Linked DNA regions of Homo sapiens: all the other regions are reported to be linked to region 1. Evidence: microRNA targets listed by miRTarBase, many of them from high-throughput screens and not tested one by one. Region 1 holds a microRNA gene; each other region holds the end of a gene's coding sequence.
The links. The annotated mature microRNA hsa-miR-6747-3p reads UCCUGCCUUCCUCUGCACCAG and lies in region 1 at 1,665-1,685, opposite strand. An mRNA with a match to its seed (bases 2 to 7 or 8) in the 3' UTR can be bound and repressed. Matches are read on the target gene's strand: a 7mer-m8 pairs with bases 2 to 8, a 7mer-A1 pairs with bases 2 to 7 and ends in A, and an 8mer does both.

Region 2: the mRNA of CREM is a reported target of hsa-miR-6747-3p. Seed matches in the 3' UTR shown: 8mer at 397-404.
Region 3: the mRNA of ZDHHC15 is a reported target of hsa-miR-6747-3p. The part of its 3' UTR that is shown has no 7-base or 8-base seed match.

The regions. Positions count from the first base shown.
Region 1 is chr11:62,565,347-62,568,487 of GRCh38, forward strand. MIR6747 (microRNA 6747) reads right to left here and starts at 1,725; the gene lies at 1,665-1,725. It overlaps EEF1G (eukaryotic translation elongation factor 1 gamma), which reads right to left. Exons shown (of 10, transcript NM_001404.5): 6 at 2,053-2,182; 7 at 1,460-1,664.
Region 2 is chr10:35,211,037-35,214,177 of GRCh38, forward strand. CREM (cAMP responsive element modulator) reads left to right here. Exons shown (of 8, transcript NM_183011.2): 8 at 218-1,917. The coding sequence ends at 362. Among named protein-coding and RNA genes, the nearest start is that of LINC02634, 32 kb to the right of the region's middle. RefSeq lists an enhancer at 251-810.
Region 3 is chrX:75,376,443-75,379,583 of GRCh38, reverse strand. It overlaps ZDHHC15 (zDHHC palmitoyltransferase 15), which reads left to right. Exons shown (of 12, transcript NM_144969.3): 11 at 386-464. The coding sequence ends at 432. Among named protein-coding and RNA genes, the nearest start is that of UPRT, 100 kb to the right of the region's middle.

The sequences.
Region 1 (3,141 bases):
CTGCACTCCAGATTGGACAACAAAGTAAAACCCTGTTTCCAAAAAAAAAAACCTTGGGGAAAGCATTTCTGGCAGCCCTGTAGGGCATCATGGTAACCCAATAAATAGACATTAATAAACATTCCCAAAACCATGTTAAGAAAATGTAAAGTTTATTAAATAAAGATTTTAAGTTTACTACTGCCTCATTTATTTCCTGCCCAGAGTACTGACCTACTATATGTGAAAATCTCTAGCTAATAATTAACAACGTCTGAGTTACAACACAATATGTAATTTGGGTTAATTATCATGACCTATTTACACACACCAAAAATCCTGCTCACTCTTGACCTGCACCTGTGCTAAATTCAAGGCAAATCACTAGTTCAAAAAATACATCTTTAAAGAGTGCCTGTGTCTGGATGGAGCCTTCCTGGTCTTGTACAAAATACCCGGGAGTAAGAACTTTCAGCTATACCCCAAGTTGCTCCCATCTATTAGTGCAATGCTTGTAATTCACAATTCTATGCACAGCTACTGTGTCCCTACCAGTGGGTGCTCCTTTAGGCTGGTTCACCCGGTATCCAAGCCATTACAAGATGGGAGAGGGTGAAATGTAAACCCTAGCAGACCAAGCAGTAAAAAGATGAACGGCTTTGGAAATGACAGGGTGAGTGGGAGGAAAAAGTACAGAGAAAGAGGAGTTCCAAAGCAAAGTGACCACAGAATATATATTTCTCAAACTGCTTGAACTCCCAATAAAATGACTTGGAGCAGTGATGGAAGAAAGACTCCATCCCAGAGAACTGGGCAAGCACTCAGCGTCCTACATTTTTCATGCCAAAAATCTCGTTTTTACTATATTATTTCTTCCAAGAAGCCCTACCTTTAACTGAAAAAGGGATACAGAGGACACCTACTTTCTTCTACTTGGGGACTTTACTCGGTTGTGGAACAATGAACTAGACAGACACTACTTAGCTATGATCTTCATCCTTTTTCTTAGTGAGCAATTTTTGTACAGTCTGATTCAGCAAAACAGAAAACAAAACAATTCAAAGGACCCTGCTCTGGCATCCACTATCTCCGCACAGCCGGGCGCGTGGCGCACCGCAAGGCTCTCTGCACTTTCTTCCTCCCCACGCCTCTCCCTGTATTTGTTCTCAGAGCTCTCAAATGGTCAAATGAGCTTGCTCAAAACCAACTTACCACTATATCAAAATCTGTTCCTGTCTTTGTTGGAATAGGAGTTCAATCTTCCCCAGTACTGGCTGTACTTGAAACTTGCTCTCCACAATCAAAATTTGCCCAATTCCTGATTATCAGCCAGAAAGCTGCTTTATTTGCAACTAAAATATACCTTTAACTTTATATGGACAACCTAAAATTCTGGCTCTAGCTGTGTGTGAGGGGGGACATACAGAGGTGAGAACAGGCCTTCTTTGGTCCCACACCCTCCACCCTCCAATATCCTTACCTCTTGGGCAGGTGAGCGAAGGGGTCCTTGGCCTTGGGCTCAGCAGCCAGCGCCTGCTCACATTCATCCATCTCCTCCTCAGGAGCAGGGGCAGCCGCCTTTTTCTCCTCCTTCCGCTCAGCCTGGGGCTTCTGCTTCTCTTCCCGTGAACCCTTCTCTTTCCGTGGTGTGTCCTTTTTAGGTTGGGTCTCTGCAAACTTTTTAGCTGGTGCAGAGGAAGGCAGGAAAGTGAACGAATGTTCTGCCTCTTTCCACACCCCTCCAAAACCACACAGAGCAAGCAAGGTAACAGAGGAAACTGACGAATGGGACAAGTAAGGAACTTAGGCCCCAGACTGCTCATCAGTTCACTGTGTGTCCTCCAGCAACAACACACTCAGCAACAAATACTTTATATCGCAAATCTATATAGTAATACAAATTAGTCAGGGTATGAGTGTACACGAAACTGCACATAATATTAGCTACCACATTGACACCCTACATTCTGCAGGTCCCCATAACCCAAAAGCAAGACAGGAAATCAAGGGGTTGATGCAGAGCAAACCAGACCCTGATCCTGGCCATATGCCTCCCAGTCTCCTCAGACTCACCATCAAACTGGGCCATCTTCTCACACAGTTTCACTTCGCCCAAGACAGCCCGGAACTGGGGCTGGTTAATGCAGGTGAGGAACCAGCGGTTGGTATTGGGAAAGGCCTGGCGGAAAGAAGGCTCTAGAACCTGCCAGGACATAAGGGTGTAAACAAAGTCAGTGGAAAGGCCCTGAAGAGTTCTGTTCACAGCAAGAGTCCTTGCTCTACCTAAGTCCCAGTGCTCACCTTCTTTTCAAACCCTATAGACAATAGCTTCATACAACATCATCCTTCCCTGGATTACTTCCCATTTCTTCATTTTTTTCAATTTTTTTTTTTTTTGAGACAGAGTCTCACTCTATCGCTCAGGCTGGGGTGCAATGGCGTGATCTCAGCTCACTGCAGCCTCCATCTCCTGGGTTCAAGTGATTCTCGTGCCTCAGCCTCCCATGCCTTAGCCTTCTGAGTAGCTGGGACTACAGGTGCCTGCCACCACACCCAGCTAATTTTTGTACTTTTAGTAGAGATGGGGTTTCGCCCTGTTGGCCAGGCTGTTCTCGAACTCTGACCTCAAGTGATCCGCCCACCTCGGCCTCCCAAACTGCTGGGATCTCCGAGGCGGGCGGATCACGAGGTCAGGAGATCGAGACCATCCTGGCTAACACGGTGAACCCCCATCTCTCCTAAAAATAAAAAAATTAGCTGGGCGTGATGGCGGGCAGCTGTAGTCCCAGCTACTCGGGACGCTAAGGCAGGAGAATGGCGTGAACCCGGGAGGCGGAGCTTGCAGTGAGCGGAGATCGCGGCACTGCATTCCAGCCTGGGTGACAGAGTGACTCTGTCTCAAAAAAAAAAAAATTAGCTGGGCGTGGTGGCACGTGCCTGTAGTCCCAGCTACTCCAGAGGCTGAGGCAGGAGACTCACTTAAACCCAGGAGGTGGAGGTTGCAGTGAACCGAGATCACGCCACTGCACTCCAGCTTGGGTGACAGAGTGAGACTCTGTCTCAAAAAAAAAAAAAAAAAAAAAAAATTTTAATAGAGATGGGGTCTCACTATGTTGCCCAGGCTTATCTTGAACTCGCATGCTCAAGCAATCCTCCTGCCCT
Region 2 (3,141 bases), not on the chromosome of region 1:
GTGATGAATGCTGGGCGAACTGTGTTCTCAAATCATTCCTGTTGTCTAATGGTTATCTTACAAAAAGCATGTGCCTGGTTATGTTTGTTATGTGGCTTTGTACAGTCCTTACCTAGGATCGATTGGCTGTTGAGTTCGGGGGGCAGAAGTGCACTGACCCACTGTGGATTGTGTTGGAAGGCTGTTCCTGTAGTCATTTGCCTTGTGTTGCTTCCAGGGAAGCTGCCCGGGAGTGTCGCAGGAAGAAGAAAGAATATGTCAAATGTCTTGAAAATCGTGTGGCTGTGCTTGAAAACCAAAACAAGACTCTCATTGAGGAACTCAAGGCCCTCAAAGATCTTTATTGCCATAAAGTAGAGTAACTGTCTTTGACTTGGACCTTGTTTACTCTAATCAAGGCAGGAGATGCAGCAGTCCTACTTATTGCCATGTGGACTTGTGGGAAGGACACGTGTGACCCTTAAGAATCCAGTTTGGATTAGTGTTTGAAATTGAATTGGGAATGTTGTTCCAGGATGTGGAATGCAGCCGTGATCACACTTACCGAGCTTACTTTGATCTGTTTGTCAATAGCATGCAAAAAATGCTTTGTTTGCCCTTTGCTTCTGCTTTTTTTCAGGGAAGCTGCCAAAGAATGTCGACGTCGAAAGAAAGAATATGTAAAATGTCTGGAGAGCCGAGTTGCAGTGCTGGAAGTCCAGAACAAGAAGCTTATAGAGGAACTTGAAACCTTGAAAGACATTTGTTCTCCCAAAACAGATTACTAGAAATATTTAACTATGAACTGAAGGCAGCATGTATAGTTGCTTTTGAAGGAATACAATATATAGCTGGCAAGAATGGTGGCTTCTTTTCTTTGTATCATTCATCTTCTTCTTTAATCACTTAACATTCCTAAAATGCTTCACTGTACGTAGTTAAGTCGTAGCTATAACTTCAAATTTTTTAAAAGAGACAAACTGTAAAAAATGTGTGTATTCTTAAAATGCAATATTTGTAAGGCTTGTTCCAATGCCACATACTTGCAGCTCCCATTCTATGTGTCATCAATAGTGTCCTATGCAATAAAATTATTTGCAGGTCTTTAAATCATTTTAGGAAAGGATGATCAAAAATAATGCATCCAGCAGTACAATAAAAGTAAACCACAAAAAAATACCTCAGGAAAGAATAGAAAGAAAGTCTATCTAATGACATGCCTATATGAGAAGAATAGCCTAGATATGAATATATGGCATTTGCAGATTTTTATATTAGTTGCTTTGTTAAAAAAAAAAAGATTGTATTGCTGTCCTTGAATGCCATAGTCAAAGAGAGTTTTTAATAGAACCATGTTGGTTGCACTTTGTAGTGTTTGGTGCTCATTTAAATATCTGAACATTTACTACAGTTTTTAACTCTACTGTGTAATATAAAAGATCTTGCAGAAGTTCTTAGTGTTGGTTTAATATTACCTAATGAAAGTGATGACATATTTTTTATATCTGGAATGAGCCTGTTGGGATCGCATTGCATACCTTCGGGGTACAAGTCAGTTTCTACACTGGGTGCTGATCCTTGCACGCGCCCTTTCTACCATCTCACGGTGGGGATGGCCGCAGGGCTGTGCACCCAGAAGAAGATGGCTGTTAGCGTTTCGGCCTTCATAATGGCCTGAGACTTTCTTTCTGTAGGTGGTCTGGAGCTGTCCGGCTGGTGGCCCCCTATTTTGCCATTTAGCGAACAACCACAGGAATTTTAAAAACAAAAACATCCCAAGATTTTTTCATTTCAAAATGCTTCAAAGTCCACATTAGATCAGATACTCCGCTGTCGGCACATTCAGCTGAGGTTCATTACAATCGAGACTGCAATGTGATCTATGTTTCATCTTGTTTTTATAATAAAAAGCTTCAGGGAACAAGCCCAAAGCCCTCACCACAGGATGCTGTGTCCCCTCATTCCCTGACGTTTCTTGATTGTCTGCCGCGTGGTGGACTCTGCTGTGTTTCCTGCTGTGACTTCTGCTTTAAGGATGTCCCTGCCCCACCCCCCAGTTTCAAGAGTGGATCTGATCAGTGTGTGGTGGGAGACAGAAAATTGGGAGCTGGTTTGCGGAGCATCCAGCTGCTGCTTTCCCTGTACCACTGGAATTCTTTCCCTTATCTGTCACTCCCAGTAAGTAGGGCATGTCATTGTTGGCTTTCTTTAAAAATATTTATTCTTCCTTCAGAGTCGGAGCTCTGAATTTCTTTTTTCTTTTTTTCTTTTAAGACAGAGTCTTGGTTTGTCACTCAGGCTGGAGTGCAGTGGCGTGATCTCAACTCACCACAACCTCCGCCTCCCGGGTTCAAACAATTCTTCTGCCTCAGCCTCCCGAGTAGCTGAGATTACAGGCGTACACCACTACACCCAGCTGATTTTTCTATTTTTAGTAGAGATGAGGTTTCACCATGTTGGCCAGGCTAGGCTCGAACTCCTGGCCTCAAGTAATCCACCTGCCTTGGCCTCCCAAAGTGCTGGGATTACAGGTGCGAGCCACCGCACCCGGCCTAAATTTCTTTTATCTCAATTTTTGTCTTCTCTTCTACAGAGAAGATGAGGAAAGAAGTCAAGGAAGAAAAAGGAAAGGAAAACTCCAGGTTTCAGGTGCAGGACAGTAGGACCTTGCATTCACTCATCTGCCCAGTCAGTTGCTGTGCGCCAGTGGTGTGGCTGGGGTGGGTGGACACACAGAGGGGACACGAGGATCAGCAGGCAAGATGTACAAAGTTGGAGACGATGCACGCTACATGTTAGAATTCTAGAAAGATGCAGCTGGGGGTTAAACAGGAGACTTTATGTGGGAAGTGGATTTTGAACTGGGCCTTGAAGTGATTGACAGTGCTGGGGCGTGGGGTGGGTACTTCGGGAATACAGAGCACACACACTGCTCCAAGGAGCTTGGGTCTGGAGGACAGAGGGAGGCCAAGTGAGTTCTCACCCAAGAGCTAGTTTCATTTAAAAATCAGGGGAAGACAGAAGCAATGTGTGCGCATGCCTGTGTGTACTCTAGTCTGCAAAATAGGTTATATTATTTTAGAGGAAAGGGACTATCCAATTACTTGGGACCACCAGCAACAGAAGCCCCCCTTCCCAAACCCAGTGGTTTAAACAATAAGG
Region 3 (3,141 bases), not on the chromosome of region 1:
ACCTAAAGTACTGTAATAGCTAACTCAATTATGTCCGGTGGAATAACAGCAAAACAGGGTAATTTTGTGGGTAGCAAGATGCAAAACATTCCATTAAAGTCAGATTATGTTGAGCTGTCATCATAGCTATTTAAGTCAAATACCAGCCAGTATTATAGATCAGATAATGCTGATAAATAATCTTAGTTCATAGTATAGCAGGCTGACTATTCTTAGAATGTGAATGTCTGGTTACAAATGCTTCTGTGTTACACATCAGTCTTTAGAGGTTTGCAGGTATCTGTTGCCTGCAGAGATTGAACAAGAAGGAAAACTGCCAGTGAATGAATACCCACCCATATAAGGCACGGGGACATTTGATCATCTTCACGTTTCAACCTTGCAGATTATCCAGAAGGCTCATCATCTCTTGCTGTGGAAACGGAAACATAGCAGTTTTCACATTTCCTGCATCTCTCAGACAGGTCAGTATTCTGAGGGAGACACATACAGTGGCACCTGGACTGCTAAGAAGGCGGCTTGGGAGAAGAACTAGAAAAGAAATAAGTTCTTATCCTGGGTGAAAAAGATTTTAAATTCTTCACTCTTGTAATGCATGCATAAGCAGAAGTTCTATACATAATTTCCCTTGGCAGTGTGCTGAAAAAAAAGATGCCCTTATTCCCTGCAAACTCACACTTATGTCACTTGTGCTGAAAAAAACTCCGGGGATCCAGACACCCAAACATTCCGTTAAGGTTATTTACTCTCATACTGTGAATTATAAGCCTCCTCCTGTTTCATTCCAGGTCTCTGAAATGGTACAGATTACAAATAGCTTTCTTTTGCCTGACTCCATTATGTCAGTTAATAACCTAGTCTTCCCCACTAAGGGCAAAAAAGCATCCTTCCTACACTGTAACCCTCCTAAAATGCTATGAGTTTGTTAAGTAGTGGCAGACAACTTTACACATGGGATTCTCTTTGGCCTGGTGAAAAGCTCGACGACCTTCTTTTTGCAACACTCACAGGTATAAACCCAGTGTAATTAAATATTAAAAGAATGTTAGTAATAGAAATACCATAGAGCTTATAGCTCTGATCGGATGAAACTTCTAATCCTATTCTCATGAAAAAAGCTAGCAATTATTCAGAAGCTTACAATCTGTTCGTGGGTTCCCAGGTCTTCAGTTCTTTCCCTTACAGAAATTCTGCTGTGTACAAGTGTACATATTGTATAAAACTTTGTATATGCCAGCCACTTTGGTGTGTACTTGATATATATGATCTTATTTAATCCTCACATCAACTGTAAGATGAATGTTACTATTCCCATTTTACTTATGAGAAAACTGATATGCAGAGAGGTTAAATCACTTATCCAAGTCTGCATATGTAGTAAGTGGCCAACCTAGGGTTGTAACTCAGGTCTATCTGACCTCAAAGCATGCTATTTCCACCATGGCACTACATTTCAAAATCTGAGTTATTTGTGATGTGTCTTTATTTATTATCAAAGATTAAAAAAGGAGAGAACCAAGTCTGTTTCCTTATCCAAAGCCCTGATGAAATGTTTGATGTTTAGGTAAGACAACTTATATGATAGTAATATCTAGATTTGGGTTATCTGTGGTGCTAATCTGTCTATTTTATTTTAGTATTTTCCTAGGGGAAACACTACTACTTTGGCATGGTAACAGATGTTAAAGGGAAGAAAAATTATCTGGTAAATAAATTTATAAAACCCTATATAAGCAAAATTAGAAAGTTGGCTTTAGTGTAGGAATTCTCAGGGGTTTTACTACACTATTGAGTTTTGTGGCTCACCAAAAGGAGGTTGTAGTGGTCCCTTAAATTTTATTTAACTGTTGGATCCTTTCTTTTTTGTGCCTATCATGGAACCTAGTATTTCGTGCAATACTTATCAGGACCATTAATATGCTAAGGAACTTTGAAATGCATTTTTTATATACTTCCCTAGATAAGCAAAATTGCCTTCAAGCAATGCCTTATGCCTTTTACAGGGCACTCTGTCCAAATATATTAATAAAGTGATTCATTTTGTGGAAATCACAAACTCATATATACATATATATATATTTTTTTTTTGAGATGGAGTCTCACTCTGTTGCCCAGGTTGGAGTGCAGTGGAGTGATCTCGGCTCACTGCAACCTCCACCTCCCAGGTTCAAGTGATTCTTCTGCCTCAGAACCCAAGTAGCTGGGATTACAGGTGTGTGCCACCACGCCCGGCTGCTTTTTGTATTTTTGGTAGAGATGGGGTTTCTCCCTGTTGGCCAGGCTGGTGTCTAACTCCTGACCTCAAGTGATCTGCCCACCTCGGCCTCCCAAAGTGTTGGGATTAGCCACCGTGCCGGGCCTCATATTCTGATAATAATAGAAAAGTACTTGGGAACACAGGAGGGAAGAGTGGGAGAAACCTTTTAAAACTTATTAAGATATGAAGAATTGTTTAAACTGTATGTAGATAATTACTACAGTGATATTTGTAAAAAGCTCCAAACTGAAAACAACCTGAATGTCTATCAGTAGAAGAATGCATTAATACATTATATATGTCCAAGTAATTAGATATTTAATATATATTTCCCTTCATTTTCTTTTGAAGTTTTTTAAATAAAAAAGGATGAAAGAAAACATGAATCCCTTGTGTTTAAAATGTAGAATCAATGCTAATTTTTTCATTTTGCCTCTAAATTTTGTATATAAAAAATTATTGCCATAATTTTTACCCCAAAAATGTACTTATTCTAGATTATATTTTCTTCAAAATGAAAAGACAAACTTGAAAAATATTTGCAAACTATACAACACACAAAATTTAATATGCTTAATTTACAAAGCTCTTGCAAATCAGTAAACAAAAGAAAAACACAACAGTTAGAAAATGGGCAAAGCAACAAAAGAAAGCAATGAGGAAAGAACTCTCTATTCAATTAATGGTGCTGGGATAACTGGCTAGCCATATGCAGAAGACTGAAACTGGACCCTTACTTTTCTCCATATGCAAACATTAACTCAAGATGGATTAAAGACTTAAATGTAAGACTTCAAACTATAAAAATCCTAGAAGCAACCCTAGGAAATACCCTTCTCAACATTGGCCTTGGCAAAGAATTTTTGGCCAAGTCCCCAAAAGCA